2 separate regions of the Homo sapiens genome follow, and region 1 is linked to region 2. A link means that fine-mapping ties the variant in region 2 to the expression of a gene that starts in the linked region. Tissue or cell type: whole blood. Region 2 holds a variant in brackets; the other region holds the start of a gene. All regions are shown on one strand. Distances are from middle to middle.

The links. PIP is the estimated chance that this variant, and not a neighbour inherited with it, causes the effect.
Region 1: C1orf159 starts here. The variant in region 2 is fine-mapped to the expression of C1orf159 in whole blood (TOPMed, PIP above 0.99). The same link has a PIP of 0.9 or more in T cells, aorta, blood mononuclear cells, breast, coronary artery and esophagus mucosa.

The regions. Positions count from the first base shown.
Region 1 is chr1:1,111,782-1,119,781 of GRCh38, forward strand. C1orf159 (chromosome 1 open reading frame 159) reads right to left here and starts at 4,308. Exons shown (of 10, transcript NM_017891.5): 1 at 4,279-4,308. RefSeq lists enhancers at 8-509, 728-1,022 and silencers at 3,999-4,598, 4,769-4,888, 4,929-4,978.
Region 2 is chr1:1,086,797-1,094,796 of GRCh38, forward strand. C1orf159 (chromosome 1 open reading frame 159) reads right to left here. Exons shown (of 10, transcript NM_017891.5): 2 at 5,195-5,307; 3 at 4,676-4,769; 4 at 3,557-3,632; 5 at 706-801; 6 at 343-408. The coding sequence starts at 4,747. Among named protein-coding and RNA genes, the nearest start is that of RNF223, 16 kb to the left of the region's middle. RefSeq lists an enhancer at 6,150-6,199. The variant C/A (reference allele first, on the strand shown) is at 4,531.

The DNA.
Region 1 (8,000 bases), 25 kb after region 2:
CTGGAGCTTCCACTGCATCCGTGTAGCTAATGCTGGTCATCTTCGTAGCAAGCAAAGGAAGCCAACGTGAAACGTAGCTTTAAGGGCCCAATAAGAACTGTCTGGGGCCTCTCTACCTAAAGATCCCTCTCGTGCTTTGATAGAAAACAAATACCGCAAACCCCTTGATGGGGTGTAAAGGAGACATCCCCCTTTGTTGACATGCATGGTAGTCGCTGCCCACCTACCCGTGGGCTCAGCACACCGGAGTCGGGCGGTTGCCGTAGGTGGCTCAGCAGACGTGAGCAGGGCAGGATCGGGCCCATCCCCCCACCGGGAATGTCAGGCCACCATCAGGTGATGGTCAGGTGGCTGTTAACTGTCTAAAAGAACTGGTTGCACCCAGCGCCAGGGAAAGACAGGCTCCCAATAGCTAGAAAACACATGAAATCCGGTGATGGGCAGCTTCCCGATACGATCTCAGGAACTGGGCGAGTTGGCTCAAGCGTGTGCACTGAGAGGCAAAATGGCGGCGTGTAACCGTTCTATGACCTTCTAGGGACGTTTGACAGGTAACGGAAGAACGCCTCAGGTGAGCATGGGCACTACTCCAGTGAACACACGGCGCACGGTCCCTCCCTCCAGTGAACACAACGCACACGCTCCCTCCCTCCAGTGAACACACAGCGCATGCTCCCTCCTTCCAGTGAACACACGGCACATGCTACCTCCCTCCAGTGAACACACGGCACATGCTCCCTCCCTCCAGTGAACACAACGCGCACGCTCCCTCCCTCCAGTGAACACACAGCGCATGCTCCCTCCCCCCAGTGAATACACGGGGCATGCTCCCTCCCTCCAGTGAACACACCGGGCATGCTCCCTCCCTCCAGGGAACACATGGCGCATGCTCCCGCCCAAGTACTAGCAAGATGCTGCATGGGTGGACAGCCCACCCTGAAGAAGGATCAGGGGAGAAGGGGTGCAAGACCCCAGAAGCCTGCCAGGCTATAAAACCCCAAGTCAAAAGGTGAAACCGCACACCTGATCTCTCACATCGCCCGTCTGGCCCTCCTCCAAGGGTACTTCCTTTCCTTCCTGCTCTAAAGCTTCTTCAACAACTTTCACTCCTGCTCTAAAACTTGCCTTAGTCGGTGGGGTGCGGTGGCTCACGCCTGTGATCCCAGCACTTTGGGAGGCTGAGGTGGGTGGATCATCTGAGGTTGGGAGTTCGAGACCAGCCTGACCAAAATGCAGAAACCCCTTCTCTACTAAAATACAAAAAATTAGCCGGTTGTGGTGGCAGGCACCTGTAGTCCCAGCTACTCGGGAGGCTGAGGCAGGAGAATGACATGAACCCGGGAGGCAGAGCTTGCAGTGAGCCGAGATTGTGCCACTGCACTCCAGCCTGGGCGACAGAGACAGACTCCATCTCAAAAAAAAAAAAAAAACTTGCCTCAGTCTCTCCTTCAGCCTCATGTCCTTCCATCAAATTCTTTCTTCTGAGGCAGCGAGAATCGAGGCCGCTGCTGACATACTTTGGTGCTGAAACTCAGATACATTCTGCCAGTAATAGAGCTCTGAAGGCTCACCTGAGCTCCACACTCCACCTCGGCACACGCAACCCTCAGCCAGAGTGGTGAGAAGAGGTGGCTCTTTCTTTTCTTTGTGAAACAGGCTGGAGTGCATCGTTGCGATCTCGGCTCACTGCAGTCTCCACCTCCGGGGCTGAAGCGATCCTCCTGCCTCAGTCCCTCGAGTAGCTGGGACTGTTAGTGGCAGAATATGTCCCACTTCTGACACCAAAGCATGTTAGCAGCAGTGAACCTCAATTTTTCCCTCCTCAGAAGAGTTTGATGGACGGGTAGGAGGCAGAAGAGACCTTAGAGCAGGAGCAACAGTTTATGAAGAAGCTTTAGAGCAGGAATGAAAGGAAGTAAAGCGCCCTTGGAAGAAGGCCAGGCAGGAGACCTGAGAGATCAAGTGCGCAGTTTGACCTTTGACTTAGGGTCTTCCACGCTGGAGGCTTCCGGGGTGTTACGTCTCCCGATTCTTCCCTCGGGGTGGGCCGTCCACCCGCACAGCGGCTGCGGGCACTTGGGAGGGAGCATGCACAGAGTTTACTGGAGTTGTGCGCACGCTCCCTCGAGGCCTTTTTTTTTTTTTTTTTTTTTGAGATGGAGTCTCGCTCTGTCACCCAGGCTGCAGTGCAGTGGCGCAATCTCGGCTCACTGCAACCTCCGCCTCCCGAGTTCAAGCGATTCTCCTGCCTCAGCCTCCTGAGTAGCTGGGACCACAGGCGCCCGCCACCATGCCCGGCTAATTTTTGTATTTTTATCAGAGACGGGGTTTCACCATATTCGCCAGGCTGATCTCAAACTCCTGGCCTTCTGATCCGCCCCCCTCCCCCCACGGCCTTGCAAAGTGCTGGGATTACAGGTGTGAGCCACCGCGCACAGCCAGGGCCGCCTTCTCTTACCAGCCAAATGTCCCTGGTAGAGGGGGGCCCCTCTTCTGCCCTGCTCATGTCTGACTAGCTACCTACTGTAACGGGCCACAGGTGCTTGCCCCCATGCCTGGATAATATTTTTTATTTTTTATAGAGACGAGGTCTCCCTATGTTGCCCAGACTGGTCTCAAGCGATCTCCCACCCCAGCACCCACAGCGCTAGCTGTTCTTTAAATGAGCTACCCAGTAAGTCAAAGCTCAGGTGGAGAGCAGCCGCAAGGCAGGGAGCAGCTGGGAGGTATCTCAGGGGTTCCCGGGATGCTGCCTGTGCACCCCAGGGCTGAGGTGACTGCGTGTGGAAACACCTGCCTGACTGGCTTTTAGGAGGAGTACTGGGGGCGGGATGTGTGTCAGGAAAACAACGTTTCTGTATAATTCATAAACATGTATGTTAAAAACAACGTGGCCATGACGGATCCTGGCTGAATGCAAACGGGGAACATAAACCTGAGTAATCAGGCGCATCACTGAACATCCCAGGCGGCCGCCCCTACCCTGGGGCTCAAAACCGGCTCCCTCTGCGAGGGTTTCCCAGGTTAAGCCATCAGGAAACAGGAAGACGCCTAAGAACGATACACTGGACTTTGGGGACTCGGAGGGAAGGGTGGGAGGGGGACAAGGATAAAAAGCTACAAATAGGGTGCAGTGCGTACTGCTCGGGTGATGGGAGCACCAAAATCTCACAAATCACCACTAAAGAGCTTACCCATGTAACCAAGTAACCAAACACCACCTGTACCCCAGTAACTTACGGAAAAATAAAAGAGGAAGACGCAGCTCTGCCTTCTCTGCACACCCTGGTAATACTAAGAAAAATGAAAACCAAAAAAAGGAGGCCAAGTTTGACATCCTGAAATTTAACAGGACGAGGCGGCTAAGAATTCAGCCACAAAATAGTTCCCGGGGAAGAAGCCGCGTTTGCTTTGAAACGCGGTAAGAAATGCCCCCGAACACCTGGGCTTAAATTACACCCAAACTCAATCATCGACTCGCTGCCACCGGAACACGCGCTCCCGAAAAACTGCACCCCGACTAGCCCTCGGCTACTCCAGGTGACAAACGGACAAAAACAAATCCTAAAGCCTCGCGGGAAAAAGACCTGAATCGTGGCCGACTTCTAGGACACCGGGGACCGCGCCGGTGCCCCCACTCCCGGCTGCCGGGAAGGCGAGGCGAACGCGCCCCCTTTCTTCCCCCGGGCGCCCGTCCCATCCCCTCCCCAGGGACCCCCTCCCTGCCCCGAGAACCCCCTCCCCTCCCCAGGTGCCCCCTCTCCCCCAGAGACCCCCTCCCCTCCCCAGGGACCCCCTTCCCTGCCCCGGGAACCCTTCCCCTCCCCAGGGACCCCCCTCCCTCCCCAGGGACCCCCTCCCCTCCCCAGGGACCCCCTTCCCTGCCCCGGGAACCTTTCCCCTCCCCAGGGACCCCCCCTCCCCGCTCCGGGAACCCCCTCCCCTCCTTAGGGACCCCCTCCCCACCCCTCCCCGGGGTCCCCCTGCCCTCCTCAGACGCCCCTTCCCCTCCCCAGGCGTCCCGCTCAGCCCGGGCGCCTTTCCCCCATAGGACCGCGGCCAGGCTCGTTGGGAGGCGGCGACGAGGACGCGGGCCCAGGCGCTGGCGGCTCCTCCGCGCGCCGCACAATGGGGGACGCGCAGGGAACGTCCCTCGGGCCGGGCCAGGGCCGCCGACCTTTGTCTGCCTCTCGCACTCCCTGCGCCGACCCGGCCGCCCAGACGGACCCCAGCGCCCCAACCCGCTACCCTCACGCCTGCCCCCAGCCCCTCACTCACCCCGGCGCCCTCCGGGTTTCTCTTTCGTACACCCCGCCCTCAGGCGGTGGCGCCGCGCCCCCTGGGACTTGTAGTCTTTCTTCCGCCCCGGCCCCGGCGCCAGGCCCCGCAGCTCCCAAAGAAAACTACAACTCCCGGCGGCCCGCGCGAGAGCCGCCCTCGCCTGGTGGTACCATCGCGCGCGGCCGTGGGTGGGGCGCCGGGGCGGGGCGCGAAGCGCCCTGGGAAATGTAGTCCTAGAAGAACCAGCGCATGTCTCGGGTCCCTGACACGGAGGGACTACATTCCCCCGGATTCCTCGCGCGCCGGCTGCTTGGCGTTGCCGGGAGACGGGGCGGGGCGTCGTCGGGGTCTCCCGGGCGACCGCACAAGCGTCGGCGTCCTTAGCGTTCCGCCGGTTTAGGCGGAGGCGGAGGCGGAGCGTTTGGGGGCGGCCGGGGCGGCTTCGGCTTCATCGGAGAAGGCGGCGCGGCTGCACCAGGTTTGGCCGCGGGCGCGCGGGGCCAGCGCCCTCCAGACCCACGGAGCGCCCCGAGCGCCTCGCGAGCCGCCGCCAAATGCGCCCCAGGTCCGCGGCCGGCGCCAGTGCTGGGACCTCGGCGGCCGGTGTCGGAGCGCGGCGGGAGAGACCCTGCCTTGGGTGCGGGACTGGGACGGCTCGGACCCAGAGGGCTCCCGGGGCTTCGCCTCTCGGACGGGTCAGGGCTCTGCGGTCTCAGGACGCTCCCCCGTGAGTCTCGGCGGCCCCGGGGTCTGGGCGGCGTCGCTGCCCCACAGGCCGGGCGCGTGGGTTTTTCCGGGGCTCTGCCTCTGAGCCACCCTCGGAGAAAAGACAGCTCTGTGCGTCCCGCGGCGCCCGCAGCTTTCGGCAAACATGTTTAAAGGAGCTCCCCGAAGGAACTGGGGACGTCCGTCCGCTCATCAAAGGCTTCAATCCTGTCGGTGTCCCCGGGCCCTCTCCTAGCTGGGCCAGCGCGCAGGGTGGGGGGGCGCTGCAGGTGTCGCGGCCCCCCCCAACCTCCGCAGACCCTTCCAACCCCTCAGACCCCCCAAAACCCCCAGATCCCCCAACCCCCCATATACCCCCAACCCCTCAGACCCCCCAACCCCCCAGACCCCCCAACCTCCCAGGCCCCCAGACCCCCCAGCTCCCTTGCTCCCGGGAGCTCCCAGGCCCGTCCTGCATGCGCCTTGGGGTTGTTCCTCCTTGATGGACGCCGCCTCCGGGTTCCATCCCAAGTTTAAATGCCAGAGATTTCAATGGAAATAAAGCCCCCATCTTAACAGCGTGAGGATGTTTTGTAAACAGTATTGGGGACAGCTGGGGAAGTCACATTTGTGTCTTCTCTTTAGAGGGACAGTGTTCGCCTGAGGGTCCATCCCAGGGTTCCCTCAGGGCCTCTGGAGGAGTTGATGCCACCAGTGTCTGGCCGTGGGACACCTGGGCGTGGGCGCCCAGCACCAGGGGTTCGCTGACAGCTGCAGGGTTTCCGGCCATGCGCCCGCGGACGTGCAGCTTCTGTGTCGGTCCCATTAAGAGGAACCTGGCCTGGGCGACGTTTGAGGACCACGGGGAGGACACAGTCGCGGTCCCCTTCTCGGAGTCCAGTCTGTGCCACAGGCTCTTGCCGTCTGCGGCAACTCATTGTGGAGCTGAGCCAGTGTTTCCACTTCCTTTTTGTTTTTTTGTGTTTGAGAGGATTTCACGCTGTCACCCAGGCTGGATGCAGTGGCATGATCGTGGCTCACTGCAGCCTGGACCTCCTAGGCTCAAGCGATCCTCCACCTCAGCCTCCAGAGTAGCTGGGACCACGGGTGTGTGCCACCATGCCTTGACACATATTTCTTTATTTTTTTGTAGAGACGGGGGTCTGTTTTGCCCAGGCTGGTCTCAAACTCCTGGGCTCAAGCAGTCCTCCCGCCTGGCCCTCCCAAAGTGCTGAGACTACAGGCGTGAGCCACCATGCCTGGCGTCCACTTTCTTGACTATTTCCTGAAGACCAGCGTTTCCCGGGTGGTTTCACAGCTGCGGAAGCTGCCTGTGTCAGTGTCAAGTCCCTACCCCTCGGCTTGGCCTGGGGCTGTGGCCCTGGGTGACCGTGTCCTTATGCTGGAGCTTGGTCCACAAGTGTCCCCGCCCCTTGTTCCGTCACTCATGGTGGTCTGCACCTCTCTACACGTTGGCCCCTGTCAGAGGGAAGAAGGCAAAGTCCTGGAGCTGCGGGAAGCCGTGCAGTGCATGTGTGTGTGCCTCGGGCCCGGGCTGCAGGCCCCAACAGGGCCCACCCAGCACCTGCTGAACTGTGCTCTGAGACCAGCACCCACCTGATCTCTGGGAGCAGAGCCCCTGCCGGCGTGGGCCAACCTGACAGCAGCTGCCTGGGCACTGGGCACTCCCTCGTCTGTCAGGCGGGCAGTGGATAGCTCGTCCTCTCCCTGGGGAAGGGAGACGAGGCCATGCGAGATGTCCCTGGAGGCTCCCTCCTGAGTAACCGCACGGGGTGCACATTCCCGAGAACACGAAAGGGTGCAGGATTCCACTAGGCCAGGTGGAAACATAAGGACACCGTAGGGTCGCATCAAGTTGAAGGACAATCTCTAGACTAAAACAGAAACGACATTTACTCCCCTAAGGGCCACACGGGCTGAATCCCATCCTCAGGTTATAGCAGGGATGCTAGGTCTGAAAGCCACAGGGGAGCATCGTAAGTCGCAGGTGCCCACAGATCACACCAGGGACCCCACCTCTGCCAACCGGGCTGTTTGTGTCCCCGAAAGGGAGCACTTTCCTCCCCAGAGACTTCAGGTGCAGTATGGGAAGGTTGGGGAACTAAAAAGCTGTGCACTAATATTTTTTGTATTAAAATAGAACCATCTTATGTTTGTAATGCATGGGGTTTTGTAGGGGCGGGATGTTTTGTTGAGATGAGGACTCGCTCTGTCGCCCAGGCAGGAGTGCGGTGGTGCCATCGTAGCTCACTGCAGCCTCGACCGCCCGGGCTCAAGGATCCTCCTGCCTTGGCCTCCCACAGCACCTGGGGCCACAGGTGTGAGCTGCCGTGCCCAGCCCGGCATTCATAATGCTCAAGAGAACTTGTCCTGAGAGAGGGTCGGCTTTGCCACTGAATCATCTTTCAAATGAGGAAATTATTTAGGCTCTGTAGTGTAAGTGGAATCTTACTGCATTTATGTAGGGTCTTGGAAAACTTAAGAGATTTTAGGAACAAACTATATGTTTAACGAGTCTGGAGGTATATCAGTGATTTAGTGGGGAAGATTTTGTTAATTCAAAGTGTTTGCAAACGAGTTAGAACATACGCATTTGTAAATACAGTGTAAAATGTTTGCTGGTGGGCTGTGAATTAAGAGCAGAAGGAGATGCCACCGCCTGTCCAGATGGCCAGGATTTAAACAGCCACAGCTGGTCCCTCATGCACTGCGGGGGTTGCGGAATGGTGCGGCCCCCTGGAGAGCCCTTGGCAGTTCCTTAAAAATTGGAACATGCAGGTGCCGTGGAAGGCAGCAGTGGCATTCTGGGGCATTCATCTCAGAGAAATAAAAACTTCACACACTCGCCGGCAGCTTCATTTTAATAGCTCCAAACTCGAAACAACACTCCCCCCCAGGTGGGTGGTGAGCCCACCCCGTGCAGACACCCTGAGGAGCGGGCACCATGAAGAGGCCAGGATCCGGCTGGGCGCGGTGGCTCACGCCTGGAATCC
Region 2 (8,000 bases):
TTAAGTGTGAACCTAAGAGCGTGCGGTGTGGCCGTGAGCCATGAGTGTGAACCTGAGAGCGTGTGGCTGTGAGCTGTGTGACCCTGAGAGAGTGCGGTGTGGCCATCAGGGCCTCCCCTAACTACGGCCCTTTAGAGATGTGGCAGAGCCCCCCATGACGCCCCACATCCCCCACCCACACCAGCTGACCCCAAGCTGCAGGGGCTGCCACGCTCCCCTCTGGCTGTTTTGCAGAACCCTGAGCCTGCTGTGGCTGCGTCAAGGGTGAGGGTCTGCACTGGCTCCGACGGCCCCCAGCCCCCAGGACACCGGCAGAGGTGGCTGTGGCCTGCTGAGACTTACCAGGATGTGGCCGCCCGGGGGTCCCTGAGCTTCTGTTCATGGGGAATGGCGCACCCGGGCCAGCAACTGTGGGATAGCAGAACTGTGGGAAGCCTGTGTGCACGGAGCCCACGGGGACACCCACGTGCACCCTGAAGGGATCTCAGGACGGAAATATGAAAGCGAGGGGCTGAGGGGGCGGAGCAGCCCTCACCACAGAGCTGTCCCGAATGGCCCAGCAGACTCGGGAAGAGGGGGCTCCCGGGGCTGTTCCCCAGTGGACAGTGGCTCTGGGGCAAGGTGGGGACACAGACAGCAACTCCCACAGTGTCTCCCACAGCTGGAGCTGTGAGAAGGGAGCCGGGGGGAGCCGGGCAGACCTACAGCTTCTACACTCGGAGCCGTTGTAGGCTGGGAGGGTTCCGTTCCCACAGCGGACGCAGCTGGCGCTCCCGTCCGCGTTCCAGCGCCTGTAACAGCCTGCGTGGGGCAGAGGACGGGCATGTCAGCCAAAGCAAAATCCACACCAGCTGGGTCTCCTGGGAATGATTCTCTATTTGAGTTGGTGAGATAACTTTCATTCCAGATACTAACATGCTCTGGAGGGTAGGTGGGCGGCAGACAAGGACACCCCCAGGGAGCATGGCGGGGCCGTGAGCACCCCACGCTGAGTACTCCACACTGCGCACCCTGACCCTGAGTACTCCGACCCCAAGTACTCCACGCTGCACTCTCCACGCCGAGCACCCCGGCCCCGAGTACTCCACGCTGCACTCTCCACGCCGAGCACCCCAGCCCCGAGTACTCCACGCTGCACTCCACGCCGAGCACCCCGGCCCTGAGCACCCCGACCCTGAGTACTCCACACTGCGTACTTCAGAGAGTGGTAGGCGGCAGCATCCAGAATGAACAGGCCTGTTGGAGGGACTCGTGCTCTGCAGGACTGCAGGCTGGGCCCGGCTTCCACCACCCAGCCTTCACCCCACAGACTCCCCAAGAACCCCCACTGCAACGCCTGCCCCAGGCCTCCCCCAAGACCCCCCCCACGCCTCTCCTAGGATCCCCCAACGGCCTCCCCCAGGACCCCCCCCCCATGGCCTCCCACAGGACCCCCGCATGCCTCCCCCAGGGTCCCCCACGCCTCCCCGGGACCTCCCCACGCCTCCCTGGGACCCTCCCACGCCTCCCCAGGACCCCCCCACGGCCTCCCCCAGGACCCCCCACGCCTCCCCCAAGACCCCCATCTGCAGTGCCTGGAGCGGCTGCCTCGCACCCCGTGTTCCCTCATGCCGCCCAAGCAGGATAGGCCCACCCGCCAGCAGCACAGCCTCCTGCCCCAAGCTGATCCCGACCCTTGGTCCATCTGTCACCTCCACACCCTGGCACCCTCCCCCGGGTCTCTCTCGGGGGATCCTGCAGAACCAAGCCTCATCCCCCCGCCAGGCCGACGCTGCGCCTGAAGCCTCATTTCCGCCCACCGGCCAGGGCGCCTTTAAGGACAGGAATTGACTTTTACTCCTTGACTTTCTAAATATCTCCAACACTCAGCCCAGAGCTGAGTAGACACACTCTTGATGCCGACTGCGGTGCGGCTGCTGGTGCGGGCCACGGGTGGACCACACGCCTCGACCCTTCCTCACAGACTGATCTGAATACAAACGGGCCGCGGCGACACGGGGACCCCGCGGTGGAGAGTGGGCCTGAGACCCCGGCACGGTTGTGACAGGGGTCACTCTGCAGACACACCTCTTGGAAGAATGGAAGTCCACCCGCTCAGTCCTACCAGGGTGGAGCTGCGCTCTCCCAGCACTGGGGGCAGCCTCTGTCTCCCGGCATCTCCTGGCACAGGGCTCGGGCGACTTCAGCGAGGCTCTGTCTGAGAGTCTCTGCCCCGGAGGCCGAAGAACGGAGTCCACGGCAGGGAGCCAAACACCAGCGCAGCACTGTCCCCAGAAGTGCCCGCTGCCTCCCCGAGCGGAGACGTGACCTGGCTTGGGGCCGCACGCAGGGGGAAGCGTATCCAACACCGCAGGCCCGGCCCCTCCCCACGCGCGCCAGACGGTCCCCACCCTGCGCCTGTGCATGGGGCCACCTCGGCCCTTGGACTTCACGACCCGCTGGCCTGGCCCCTCCATGGGCACCGTGACTGCTGCACAGCTGCCTGCACCCACAGAGTGCCTGGGGTACACAATCCCTCACAGGAGACGCCACGGCCCCAGCACTCTTGCTGCCATGGGGTGCCAGGGGAGTGGTTCTCACCCAGCCACCAGGGCTTCAGCATCAGACGATGAGGACCCCAAGGTGCTCAGCTTCCTCCCAGCCCCTCTGTTCTCCCTCAGAGCGGTGCCCTCCTCCTCCTACCCTGCGTGTGCCTCAGATGTCATCACTGCCTTCCTGTGGGCTCCCCAACCCCCACGCCCAGCCTCGGACCCCCGCGCCCAGCCTCACTGGCTGCCACAGCCGCCGTCTTGACCACGCCCTCCTCACGAGGCCCCTGAGTCCCCAGGAGCAGCCCTTCTGGGTTCTTCCATCATGGGAGGGCTGGACCCCCAGGATGGGAGTGCCAAGGCCCTTGGAGGTACAGCTGGGGCATCTCAGCCCCAAGTTCACCAAGGGCCGCCAAGGAGTGGCCCTTGCACCTTCTCACTCTGTCCTCCCCTCCCCTGGCTGCTCCCACTGGCTGCCCTCACCAGCCTCAACCTCCTGACACCCAGCTGCCCCCAGACAGTCCCTTCCGCAGCCTCCCAGAACCTCTGATGAACAGGGCCTGCCCGTGGCACGCTGACACAGGCCGGCATCCTCGTGGCGTCCTGTTGATTGGCATTCCACTCCACGCACCAGGGGCCAGCAGCACCTCTGCCCGAGCACGGACAGGCAAAAATGTCTTGGGCTTTGCCAGAGGCCCCTGGAGCCAGGACAGCCCCGTGAGAATGGCTGAGCTCATGGGCCACTCCCCCAGACCCTTCTCCAGGCACCTTTCTGATCTCAGCTCCTGCCTCTGCTCCCAGCCCTCTGCTGGGCCAGTCTTCTCATGAGGCTGCCGCTCAAGGCCGCCCGCCAGAAAGGAGGCTCAGATGTCCTTCCCCAAGCTCCACAGCCCTCACTGCCCCATCCACTCCCCAGGTCCCGCAGCACAGATGAGCACTGTCCTTGTCACCGAGGGGAGGGCCCTGGGCACACACACACCAGTGGCTCAGGGGCCGGTCTGGAATCTGCTTGGGACAAAGCGGCTTACCTGGACCACACAGACTTGCGCCTGGGCAGCTGGCGTTGACGCCCACCACATCCACACAGCACTCGGGCAGCTGGGCCTGGAGGGGACACGGCAGTGAAACTCCAGGACGCGCCTGCCAGGCAGGCTCACGCCCAGAGCAGCAGCGGCTGAGGGGTGCCGTGGGAGCACATCTCAATGTCCGCAGCTCCGGCCTCTTCTGGAGTCAGCATCGGGTGGCCCTCTGTCCCCTGTGGGCCTGGGAGCAAGGAGGGGCCTCACAGCCACAGTGCACATCCCTGTGGGACCCTGGGTGGGCGGTCTCCAAGGAAAAGCTGGGCCTGGAAGAGTAAACCACCCCCAGGAGGCGGCACCCGCAGGCCATGGCAGCGCCACCGACATTCTCTGCAAGTCTCCGGAGGCTCTCCATCAGGGGTTTCCGCTTGACCCCACAGAGGAAGTGCCCGGGCCTGGCTGGCATTTCAGGGGACGAATTCACGCCCAGGTGCCCAGGTACTGCACAGGTGCGCTGGGTGCTGGCACTTACGGTGTGTGTGAGGGCCCATTCCCTGACCACAGGCAGACTGGACAGGCCTGGGGGGCTCAGGGTACCCTCAGCTTGTGTGTTGATCACAGCTGTGCTGTTTCTCGTGACCTGAATGCAGTGAACGGTGAGGGCGTCCAGGGGTGACTGCGGAGTGCGGGATAGAATCCACACCGCCAGGGAGGGGCCCAGGTCCGGTCCCTCAAACGCCCCAGCCAGGACAGTGAGGGGTCCCCACCCTCCACCCGCTCCGCCTGGGAGTCTGGAGCCGCCGCAGCTACACTCCCCGATAGCGATGCGCGGCACGCTGTGCTGTCACCGCTGGCAGAGGTGCTCCCATTGCGGGCCAGGATGCCTCACCGTGGGGGCCCCGCCTGACCCAGCCATTCCTGAGCAGGCGCTCACCCAGCAGGCAGCGGAGGGCTCCCCTCTGCGAGGCACAGGCCCCTCTGAC[C/A]CCAGCAGTGGACCTGGTCAGCACCTCTGGGGCTGGGACATCAGTGTCCTAAAGGTGGAAGGGTTAGACCCTCTAGGGGAAGGGCCCACCGCCCTCCACAGAGGCTCTGGCTTAGGCCGCGTGGACACGTGAGGGGGGCACCTACCGTGTTCTCCATGGACTTGCTGGCGACTCCCACGAGAAGGCCAGCCAGGAGGGCGAGGTGCCGCAGCGCCATGCCAGGAGCAGATGCGCAGAGCCTGCCACAGGGAGGAGCATGCGGAGCCAAAGAGATGGAGTGGGGCTGAGGCAGGGTGGGTGGGGCCAAATGAAAGTGGGGTCAAGAGATGTTGGGGGGGTGCGGGCCAAGGCAAGGAGGGCAGAGCCAAATGGAGATGGGTGGGGCTGTGGTGGAGGGTGGGGCCAAATGGAAGTGGGCGGGGCTGTGGTGGAGGGTGGGGCCAAATGGAAGTGGGCGGGGCTGTGGCAGGGAGGGTGGGGCCAAATGGAGATGGGGTGGGGCGGGGCCGCGGCAGATGACTGAGTTAAATGGAGATGGGGCAGGGCCGTGGCAGGGGTGCAGGGCCACGACAGGGAAGGTGGAGCCAAATGGAGGTGGGGTGAAAGAGTGAAGGCTTGGGGCCTTTGGAGGCACGGGTGGGGCGAGGTGTAGGCAGGGCCTTACCTGCCCCTCCAGGATGGGGACTACCGACATCAGCCCTTTGCCCGCCTGGGTGTTCAGGGGTTAGCTCTGGGAGCTCATGGGCTCAGCTGAGCCCTGCAGACCCCGGCCCAGTCCTGCAGATGAAGACAGCAGGTGAGGCCGTGGTCACGCGAGGGCAACCCAGGTGGGCCGTGGCCTACGGTGCGGGGTCTGGGTCCGGTCCGGGCCCTCTGTCCACACCCTTGCCGGCCCCTGGCTGTCGAGCAGGGCGTCCTGGAGGGGCTGTCTCCACGAGTGTTTCCCCCGAGCTGGCCTCCTGGCCTCCTGCGGGTGAGAGTGCCTGGGATACAGGCCCTCGCTGGGATACGGGCCCTCGGCCCGGCCTTTGCTCAGGGACCAGGTACGGAGCTCAGTGGCCCAGGCTGCACTTGGTGGACACCGGTCCTCCCGCACAAACCCCCTCTCTCCCCCCTGCACTTCCAGCCACAGGACCTGTTACCATGGCCCTGCCTTCCTAAGGGAGGAAACGCCTGCCAGGCGCACAAATCCTCAAGTGGTGTCACTGCACTGGCTCAGGGGCCTCCCTGGCAAGTTACCCCGAGGGGGGCTGAGGCCCAGCCAGGCCTGTGGGGCTCCTCTTGATGGGCCTAGGCCGGGGTCCTGGGACAAGGGCTGTGAGCAGCAGGGAGACGGAGGCCCTGGAGGACACAGCTCCAGTCTCTGCACAGGGACGGTCCACTCTCCGCACAGGGACGGTCCACTCTGTCACCCATTCCATGCTGGATTCAGGTCATGGCCTCACAAACTGACCAGGCTGCCCAGGTGTGAGCCTGCCGGAGGACTCTGGAAGGTGGGGGTGGTCGGAATGCTTGAGCTCAGGAGTTGGAGACCCACCTGGGCAACACAGCCCGTCTTTACAAAAAGTTTAAAATTAGTCGAGCCTGGTGGTGGGAGCCTGAGGTCCCAGCTACTCAGGAGGCTGAGGTGGGATGATCACCTGAGCCCAGAAGGTGGAGGCTGCAGTGAACGGAGACTGCACTCCAGCCTGTGCAAGGGGAACTCCGTCTCAAAAAAAAAAAGCATGCTCTCCTCTGATTCAGCTCCTCCTCTCTGATGTGAAATCCTTTCAGATGGAACGTGTTGAAGTCACAGACATGCTGCTCGCCCCACCCACAGAGTGCAATCAAGTCTTAGTTTGTCCTTTTGTCCCTTTAACATTTGCCCAGCAGAGACCGTCTTCCCCTGCTCAGTGGAAAACTCCAGACATCACAGACCCTTCTGCTCCCTCTCTGGTTAAAGGGCATCCTGAGGGCCACATTAAGTCACAAAACATCATTTTGATTCAGGAACCAGAAGTCCAAGATTTCAATCAACACTTTCATCTGCTATTTAGTCAACTTCATGGAGATCTACTTTACATACAATAAACCACATCCGTGTAAAGTACACAAGCGGGTGAGTGTGACCACCCCCTTGAAGCTGCCACCACAGCCAGGACGGTGCCCGGTCCCACACAGCTGCCAGCACTCGCTGCGGCCCCCACAAGCCCGGGCTCCCGGCAGCCAGGAGCTGACCAGACTGCAGCTGTATCTTCTAGGGTCTTACACAAAGGGGTTGCACACACTGACCTTTAGATCCTTCCATGTTGTTTTATCCGCACTTTCTTCCTTTCCACAGTCGGAGGATTTTCCACTGTGTTGGCCAAACGTCACCGCCTTTGCCCATCACCTGCCAGTGGGTGCCTGGGCTGCTCCCAGTTCCTGGTGACTGGATGGAGCTGCGGCCAAGGTCCTGGCACATGTCATCATGTGGACATCTGTCTTCATTTCTCTTGGGAGCAGAGTGGCTGGCTCACAGGGAGGTGCACGTTTAACTTTCTAAGGAACTGCAGCCGTCTTCCACAGTGGCTGTGCTGTATACCCTCCCACTGGCGATGTGGGTGCACGCAGGGTGTCCGTGCATGTGCAGGAGTATCTCTGTGTCGTTACAATCTGCATTTCCCTGAAGACTAATGATGGCATCTTTCCATGTGTTTATTAGCCACTTATATATCTTCTTTCTGAAGTGCCTACTCACATCTTCTGCCCATTTTGTTTAATTGGGTGGAGTTGCAACATATACCTTTTTTTTTTTGGCAGGGGTGGGGGGCATAGGGTTTCACTCTGTTGCCCAGGCTGGAGTGCAGTAGTGGGATCGTGGCTCACTGCAGCCTTGACCTCCAGGGCTTACGCGATACTCCTACATCAGCCTCCCGAGTAGCTGAGACTACAGGTGCATGCTGCCATGTTGACCTCCGGGGCTTAAGTGATCCTCCTACCTCAGCCTCTCGAGTAGCTGAGACTAGAGGTGTGCGTCACCACCACGCTCAGCTAAAACACATATTCTTCATCAGACTTATGTATTGCAAATATTTTCTTCCATCCTGTGGTTTGTCTTATCATCTTTTTTTTTTTGAATTGGAGTCTCTGTCGCCCAGGCTGGAGTGCAGTGGCGTGATCTCAGTTCACTGCAAGCCCCGCCTTCTGGGTTCACACCATTCTCCTGCCTCAGCCTCCTGAGTAGCTGGGACTACAGGTGCCCGCCACCACGCCCGGCTAATTTTTTGTATTTTTAGTAGAGACGGGGTTGCACCATGTTGGCCAGGATGGTCTCGATCTCCTGACTTTGTGATCCGCCTGCCTTGGCCTCCCAAAGTGCTAGGATTACAGGCATGAGCCACCTTGCCCGGCCCCCGTCTTATCATTTTTTTATGGACATCTTTTGAAGAGCAAATGTTTTTAATTTTAATGAAATTTTTAATAAAATTGAATGCATCCATTTTTCCTTT